2 linked regions of the Homo sapiens genome follow. The protein of the gene in region 1 interacts with the protein of each later gene in a biochemical or structural test. Each region holds a gene or a part of one and is shown on either strand. Other genes may lie near its edges.

Region 1 (4,016 bases):
TCAAAATTTCTCCCGCAGCTCTCAGGTCTCTCAGTCCCTCTGTTGGTGGAAGGATCTGAGGGCAATAGAGCCTGGAACTGCACACTTTATTTGTTAAGTTAATTTTTTTCTTTTAAATCAGAGGAACATATAAAAAGGTGCACAAATCATGAGGGAAATCTCAATGGAGTTTTACAAGTGAGCACTCTCCACTGTCATGTAACTGCCCCCAAGATCTGCACCCATAGCCCCCTTTGGACCCCAAATAAATTATCGTCTTCCCCTAAGGCAACTACTATTTTACCTTCTATCACCATAGGTTAATTTTGTCTGCTTTATCTTACTTTATTTTTTATTTTTATTTTGCTCTCTGGATCTGTGTAGAGTATTTGCCTGTTTTTTTTTTTTTTTTTTTTTTTGAGGTGGAGTCTCACTCTGTCGCCCAGGCTGGAGTGCAGTGGCTCGATCTCGGCTCACTGCAAGCTCCACCTCCCAGGTTCACACCATTCTCCTGCCTCAGCCTCCTGAGTAGCTGGGACTACAGGTGCCCGCCACCCTGACCAGATAATTTTTTGTATTTTTAGTAGAGATGGGGTTTCACCGTGTTAGCCAGGATGGTCTCGATCTCCTGACCTCATGATCCACCCGCCTCAGCCTCCCAAAGTGCTGGGATTACAGGCGTGAGCCACTGCGCCTGGCCGAGTATTTGCCTCCTTTTTAAGCAAACTTCTCTTTTTTTCTTTTGAGACATGGTCTGACTGTCGCCCAGGCTGGAGTGCAGTGGCATGATCCTAGCTCACTGCAACTTCCTGGCTCTAGCCAACCTCCCACCTCAGCCTCCCGAGTAGCTGAGACTACAGGCATGTGCCACCACGCTTGGCTAATTATTGTATTTTTTTTTTTTTTTTTTTTGAGACAGAGTTTCGCTCTTGTCACCCAGGCTGGAGTGCAATGGCGCAATCTCGGCTCACTGCAACCTCCGCCTCCCAGGTTCAAGTAATTCTCCTGCCTCAGCCTCCCGAGTAGCTGGGATTACAGGCATGCACCACCATGCCCGGCTAATTTTGTATTTTTAGTTGAGTTGGGATTTCTCCATGTTGGTCAGGCTGGTCTTGAACTCCCGACCTCAGGTGATCTGCCTGCCTTGGCCTCCCAAAGTGCTGGGATTACAAGCATGAGCCACCGCGCCTGGACAATTCATGTATTTTTTGTAGAGACAGGGTCTCACAATATTGACCAGGCTGGTCTTGAACTCCTGAGCTCAAGCAATCTGCTCGGCTCAGCCTCCCAAAGTGCTAGCATTACAGGCTTAAGCCACTGCGCCTGGCCTACAAACTTCTTATTGACGTATACATACAAAAAAGTACACTAATCAAGGAAGCAGCTGGATTAGTTTTCATGACATAAACCCATGTGTAACCAGCATTTTGATCAATAAATAGAACATTGCCAGCACCCAGAATCCCCGCTCAGGCTCTTTCTGTGCACTAACAAGCCAAGTCTAACCACAATCCTGATTCCTATGATTGTGGATACATTTTTTCCATTTTTGAATGTTATTTTGTTCAATGTTATATTTGTAAATTTCTCATGTAATTAATATGCCGTAATTAATTCTTTTTTATTGCTGCGTAATATCCCATTATATGGCCACACCACAGTTTTTCTGTACTATTGTTAAGGGCTGTTGAGATTGTTTCCATTCACACTTCTTTTTTTTTTTTTTTTTGAGATAAGGTCTCTGTCTGTCACCCAGGCTGAAGCACAGTGGCATGATCGTAGTTCACTGCAGCCTCAACCTCCTGGTGCTCAAGCAATCCTCCCACCTCAGCCTCCCGAGTAGCTGGGACTATAAGTGTGTACCACCATGCTCAGCTAATTTAAAAAAAATTTTTTGGGGGGGCCAGGCACAGTGGCTTATGCCCATAATCCTAACACTTTGGGAGGCCGAGGCGGGCGGATCATCTGAGGTTGGGAGTTTGAGACCTGCCTGACCAACATGGAGAAACCCTGTCTCTACTAAAAATACAAAATTAGCCGGGCATGGTGGTGCATGCCTGTAATCCCAGCTACTCTGGAGGCTGAGGCAGGAGAATTGCTTGAACCCGGGAGGCGGAGGTTGCAGTGAGTCGAGATCGCGCCATTGCATTCCAGCCTGAGCAACGAGAGTGAAACTCAGTCTCAAAAAAAAAACTTTTTTTTTTTTTGTAGAGATGAAGTCTCACTATATTGCCCAGACTGGTCTCAAATTCCTGGGCTCATGTGCTTCTCCCACCTCAGCCTCCCGAAGTGCTGGGATTACAGGCATGAGCTTCTGCTCCTTGCCTACTTCATTTTGAAAGGGAGTGACTACCTACCCATATCTCAGTTGTCATAAATGCAATTCCACCTGCAGAAATTCAGGAAGGGAAGATTGTATTTAGCACTGGTGCCAAATGCATTCATTAGGAGAGACTTAAAAACAGTCTACTGGTTAGGATTAAGTTCAGCTGCAAGTTACAGAAAAAATGAAATGACAGTGGGTTAAAGAAAGAAGTTTATTTCTGTCTTGTGTTCAAGAAGTCTGGAGACAGTGAGTGTCCAAAGTGTATGTGGGGTAAGGCCCCATGCCCTGTGCCTGGTTGCTTTTAGCATGCATAGCTTCCATTTCCATGCAGTCTCACCCAGGATTTCGGGATGACTGCTGAGTACTAAACCAAAAAACAAAAACAAAAACAAAAAAAAACAAAACCGATGTTAGAGAGGCAGGTAAGGCATTTGAAAACATTGTTTTATGGAAAAAAAAAGTTATGGAACATTTATAAAATGAAAAAAGCAGTTTTTTCTAAATTAACACATTATTTTATAACTTAAAATGTTTTAAATATGTATTTGTGACTTAACTGATACATTATTATAAGTAGATACTTGATATTTCATCTATATCCTTTAAAATATTCAAGCTGACCAAGAAATTGTATGTGGGGTCTTCCAATCAGGAAAAATAGGAGCCAGGCACAGTGCCTCACACCTGTAATCCCAGCACTTGGGAGGCCAAGGCTGGAGGATCATTGAGCCCAGGAGCTCACGGCCAGCTGGACAACATGGCAAAACCCCATCTCTACAAAAAATACAAAAACGTGGGGGTACTGGTGTAGTCTCAGTTACTGGGGAGGCTGAGGCAGGAGGATTGCTTGAGCCCAGGAGGTCAAGGCTACAATGAGCCATTATTGTGCAACTCCAACCTGGGCAGCAATGCAAGACTCTGTCTCAAAAAAAAAAAAAGAAGAAGAAGTCCAGGCATGGTCGCTCATGCCTATAATCCCAGAACTTTGGGAGAGCAAGGCGGGGGAATCACTTGAGGTCAGGAGTTCAAGACCAGCCTAGCCAACGTGGTGAAACCCCATCTTTACTAAAAATACAAAAAATTAGCTGGGCATGGTGGCGGGTGCCTGTAATCCCAGCTACTTGGGAGGCTGAGGCAGGAGAGTCACTTGAATCTAGGAGGTGGAGGTTGCAGTGAGCCGAGATCATGCCACTACACTCTAGCCTGGGCAACAAGAGCGAAACTCCATCTCAAAAAAAAAAGAAGAAGAAGGAAGATGTTATCCTCCTATTACAGTCGCCTACATTCAGGCAAACATAGTACGTAGAGGAAGACATGGACTTGACTTTGGTACTTTTTGGATGCAGAACCAGGGCCATTTTGCTTCAACTAATATTTTGTTAATTAATGAAAGATCAATAAATATGTTTGTTCAAATTAATAATTTTAAAAAAATTTATTCACACAATTTGGTACCTAGCACAAGAAGCAAACAGAGGTGACAAGGTGCATGCTGCAGCAGACAACAAACCCATTGTCAGGGGTCTATGAAGCAGTCAGTTCTCATTAGAAAACCGAGAGAATATTTTACAGCATGAGTGACATGTGAGCTGAGGCTTGAGGACTGAATGCAATTTCGATGAATGTAGAATGTAGAAATTTCAGGGTGAGGGACCGGCATGGATGGAGGCGCCCCGCTATGACAAGAGTCTGAGTTCTTCAAGCCCTAATG
Region 2 (3,500 bases), on another chromosome or scaffold:
AAAAGCAATGTTATTCTTCTCAGCACATCACACCAGGAAGTGCATGATGTCAGTTTCTTCCATCCTCAGTGCCGTCTTCTGCCTTTCAATTCACTGTCCTCACTCTGACTTCTCTTGTTTGTTCTAGAACTTTGCTCCCCAGCTGTCTTATGGCTATGATGAGAAATCAACCGGAGGAATTTCCGTGCCTGGCCCCATGGTGAGCCAGCAGGGGGAGCATGGATGACAGAAGAGAGAATGGGTATCCAGAGGAGGTGGGCATAGGCGGCTGGTATAGACAGCTTGGGAGGTCCAGATCACCTTTGGGACCTCAGAGTCCAGAAAGGATGCAGGACGACTGGGTGGTCCCAACAGGCATGAATGACTACATCCACATGCTTTCCTACAGAGGGATCACCATGACCCCCCTTTCTTCTCCCTCTATAGGGTCCCTCTGGTCCTCGTGGTCTCCCTGGCCCCCCTGGTGCACCTGTGAGTATCCAGGACGTCTTCATATGCCTCCTTGGGCTTTGGTCTTTTGGAGGGAAGACTGGGATGAGGGCAGGAGAGATGCTCAGAGATCTCTTGGTAAGATTGGAGAAGGTTGACAGGGACTTGTCTTCTAACCCATCTTTTTCCTTCTTCTCAAGGGTCCCCAAGGCTTCCAAGGTCCCCCTGGTGAGCCTGGCGAGCCTGGAGCTTCAGTAAGCACTCTCTATACAGATTCATACTCCTTCTACAAACACACAGACTCTCCTATAGAAGAACTCCCAGGCCTGGGGTCTTCCTTACCTCTTCCCTTCAATCCCAGCCTTCCCCTTCTTTTTTTCTTATCCATATTCTAACCACCTCTTCTATCTTTTCTAGGGTCCCATGGGTCCCCGAGGTCCCCCAGGTCCCCCTGGAAAGAATGGAGATGATGTAAGTATCCCCAGCAAGAAGATACCATCTGACCCCATGGCCTCCATGGGTTGGGTCCTGCAATTTCCACTCCACCACATTTGGGAACGATACTCAGAGGAAGGAGGGCAAGTCCTCTCTGATGCACGGACTGCCCTGGAACAATGATCTTTTCGCTTAGTGAGATGATTCCATGTCCCCAACAAAGTGACTGTTCTCCTCACCCCAGCCACCTTAGAGCAATCCCCAACCCCATCCCTTTGGGGAAATTGGTGCGCAGATGGTGAAATTAAAATGCTGGTGACAGAAGTAGACAGAAATTCCTTTAGAGGCACTCAGATTTCACCAAACGAAGGTTTCACTGTAGATTTAAACTGAGCTCTAGATTCAAAGATAAGATTCTGGGCCCCCAAACCTGACCTGCAACAATCCAAAGAAGACTGAGACCTTCTCCACTTTTCCAGCCCCTAGGCGGTGGTGGGGAGGCAGAGGCATGATGGTCTTTTCTCTCCCTCTCAGGGGGAAGCTGGAAAACCTGGTCGTCCTGGTGAGCGTGGGCCTCCTGGGCCTCAGGTGAGCAGGGGGCTGTGGCTGAACCTGGGCTTCACTGCACTTGGGCTTCATTTAGGAGCTGGGTCCACAGTGATGTGTTCTAATGGCCCTTCCTTGTCTTCTTCATCTCTCTCCAGGGTGCTCGAGGATTGCCCGGAACAGCTGGCCTCCCTGGAATGAAGGGACACAGAGTGAGTCACCTTTGAGTCATTTAAGCTCCCCAAGTCCCTAGCATACCCCCATCCAGTCCCAACCTCTTCCCCAAAAGATACTGAGTTGCATCATGGTGGGTGGCAGCTACAGAAGTCCCAAGGGACAGAGAGTGGACATCCAAAAGCACCTCCCTCCATGGGAAAGCAGTCCCGATTAAACGATTGGGTGAGATCTAGAGCCAGTTGGGGTTTAGTCTAGCTCAGAAACAAAGGGATGGCGGTGATGACCTCCCAAGGCTCTTTCTCAGATCTAGGTGGATGTCAAGGCTGTTCCACCCCCTCCACAGGTTCTTACCTTCTACCTCTTTCCTGCTTTAGGGTTTCAGTGGTTTGGATGGTGCCAAGGGAGATGCTGGTCCTGCTGGTCCTAAGGTAAGAGGCTGTCTGAACATCATGGTCCTCCACATCCCCAGAGTCCCACCATGAATGAATTTCTCACTCATTATTCTCTGATCTACAGGGTGAGCCTGGCAGCCCTGGTGAAAATGGAGCTCCTGGTCAGATGGTGAGTGTGCCCAGTTCCAGAGGGCAGGGATGGGGCAGGAGGCAGGGGCAAGATGGAGGCCTGGGGGAACAAGGCTGTCTCCCATCTCATCTGACTTCTCTTGGTTTGGTTGTCAGGGCCCCCGTGGCCTGCCTGGTGAGAGAGGTCGCCCTGGAGCCCCTGGCCCTGCTGTAAGTACTCCTGGCCCCTTGGGGGATCCCTGAGCTCTGGAAGGGGCTCCCCAGGAACTCTAGGGACTGGCCAGTGCTCAGTGGACTTAACGGGGCTTCCCCTCTCTCCTGCAGGGTGCTCGTGGAAATGATGGTGCTACTGGTGCTGCCGGGCCCCCTGTGAGTGTGGCCTGTAGGCCTCAGGGCCTGGGAGTGGGGAGGGGTCTCAGTATCTGCTCTTGGGGCTGACAATGGGAGCAGGTTATGTTGGTCTGAACCCCAGGACTTCCTCTGTCCCAGGGTGTGACTTGCAGCTGCCATCTCTTCCTTCTCGCTGACATCTCCATTTCATTCACAGGGTCCCACCGGCCCCGCTGGTCCTCCTGGCTTCCCTGGTGCTGTTGGTGCTAAGGTGAGACCCCCCACTCTCCTCTAAGCATGACCCTCATGGGCCAAGGGGTTCATGTCTCCCTGTTCCCCAAACCAAAGGGACCCAGAGTGGCAAGAGAGCAGCCCGTTCACTAACACCTTTGTCCTGGGTTCTCCGTCTCTGATCTTAGAGTCCTGATCATTGCTCTCCTGTCCCTGTCTCCCCTTCCTCCTGCCATCCCGAGAGGCAAGGTTGGGTTTCCCAGGGTGGCTTCTGATATGTCCTTTCTTCTGATTCAGGGTGAAGCTGGTCCCCAAGGGCCCCGAGGCTCTGAAGGTCCCCAGGGTGTGCGTGGTGAGCCTGGCCCCCCTGGCCCTGCTGGTGCTGCTGGCCCTGCTGTAAGTGTCCCCGACTCAGTGTCCCCTTTGCCACTTTCTAACCTCAGAGTCCTTGCCTGTTGCTGACACTCCTTTCTCTGTGCCACAGGGAAACCCTGGTGCTGATGGACAGCCTGGTGCTAAAGGTGCCAATGTAAGTATCCTGCCAGGCTTCAGTCCCACTCCTGCCGCCTGCAGCCTGCCTGCCCCTTTCCCTCTGCTCCTAGGCTCACGCCCTGGCTGTCTGCCTCCCACAGGGTGCTCCTGGTATTGCTGGTGCTCCTGGCTTCCCTGGTGCCCGAGGCCCCTCTGGACCCCAGGGCCCCGGCGGCCCTCCTGGTCCCAAGGGTAACAGCGTGAGTACCAAACTCTCCCTTCTGCCCACCCCATGCACTGGCTCCAGTGCGGCTCTCATCTGGGGAGCAGGAAGACGCAGGCCAACTGAGCGCCCCCGAC

Evidence for each region.
Region 2: the proteins of MATN2 (region 1) and COL1A1 form a complex in vitro, tested with the Homo sapiens proteins (one study listed by BioGRID).

Annotation. Positions count from the first base shown.
Region 1 is NC_000008.11:97,875,316-97,879,331, forward strand, and holds part of MATN2 (matrilin-2 isoform a precursor), read left to right. Parts: intron 1-4,016.
Region 2 is NC_000017.11:50,195,132-50,198,631, reverse strand, and holds part of COL1A1 (collagen alpha-1(I) chain preproprotein), read left to right. Parts: intron 1-127; coding exon 128-199; intron 200-426; coding exon 427-471; intron 472-629; coding exon 630-683; intron 684-846; coding exon 847-900; intron 901-1,398; coding exon 1,399-1,452; intron 1,453-1,568; coding exon 1,569-1,622; intron 1,623-1,961; coding exon 1,962-2,015; intron 2,016-2,103; coding exon 2,104-2,148; intron 2,149-2,264; coding exon 2,265-2,318; intron 2,319-2,432; coding exon 2,433-2,477; intron 2,478-2,655; coding exon 2,656-2,709; intron 2,710-2,966; coding exon 2,967-3,065; intron 3,066-3,153; coding exon 3,154-3,198; intron 3,199-3,301; coding exon 3,302-3,400; intron 3,401-3,500. UniProt on the Homo sapiens protein: Type I collagen is a member of group I collagen (fibrillar forming collagen).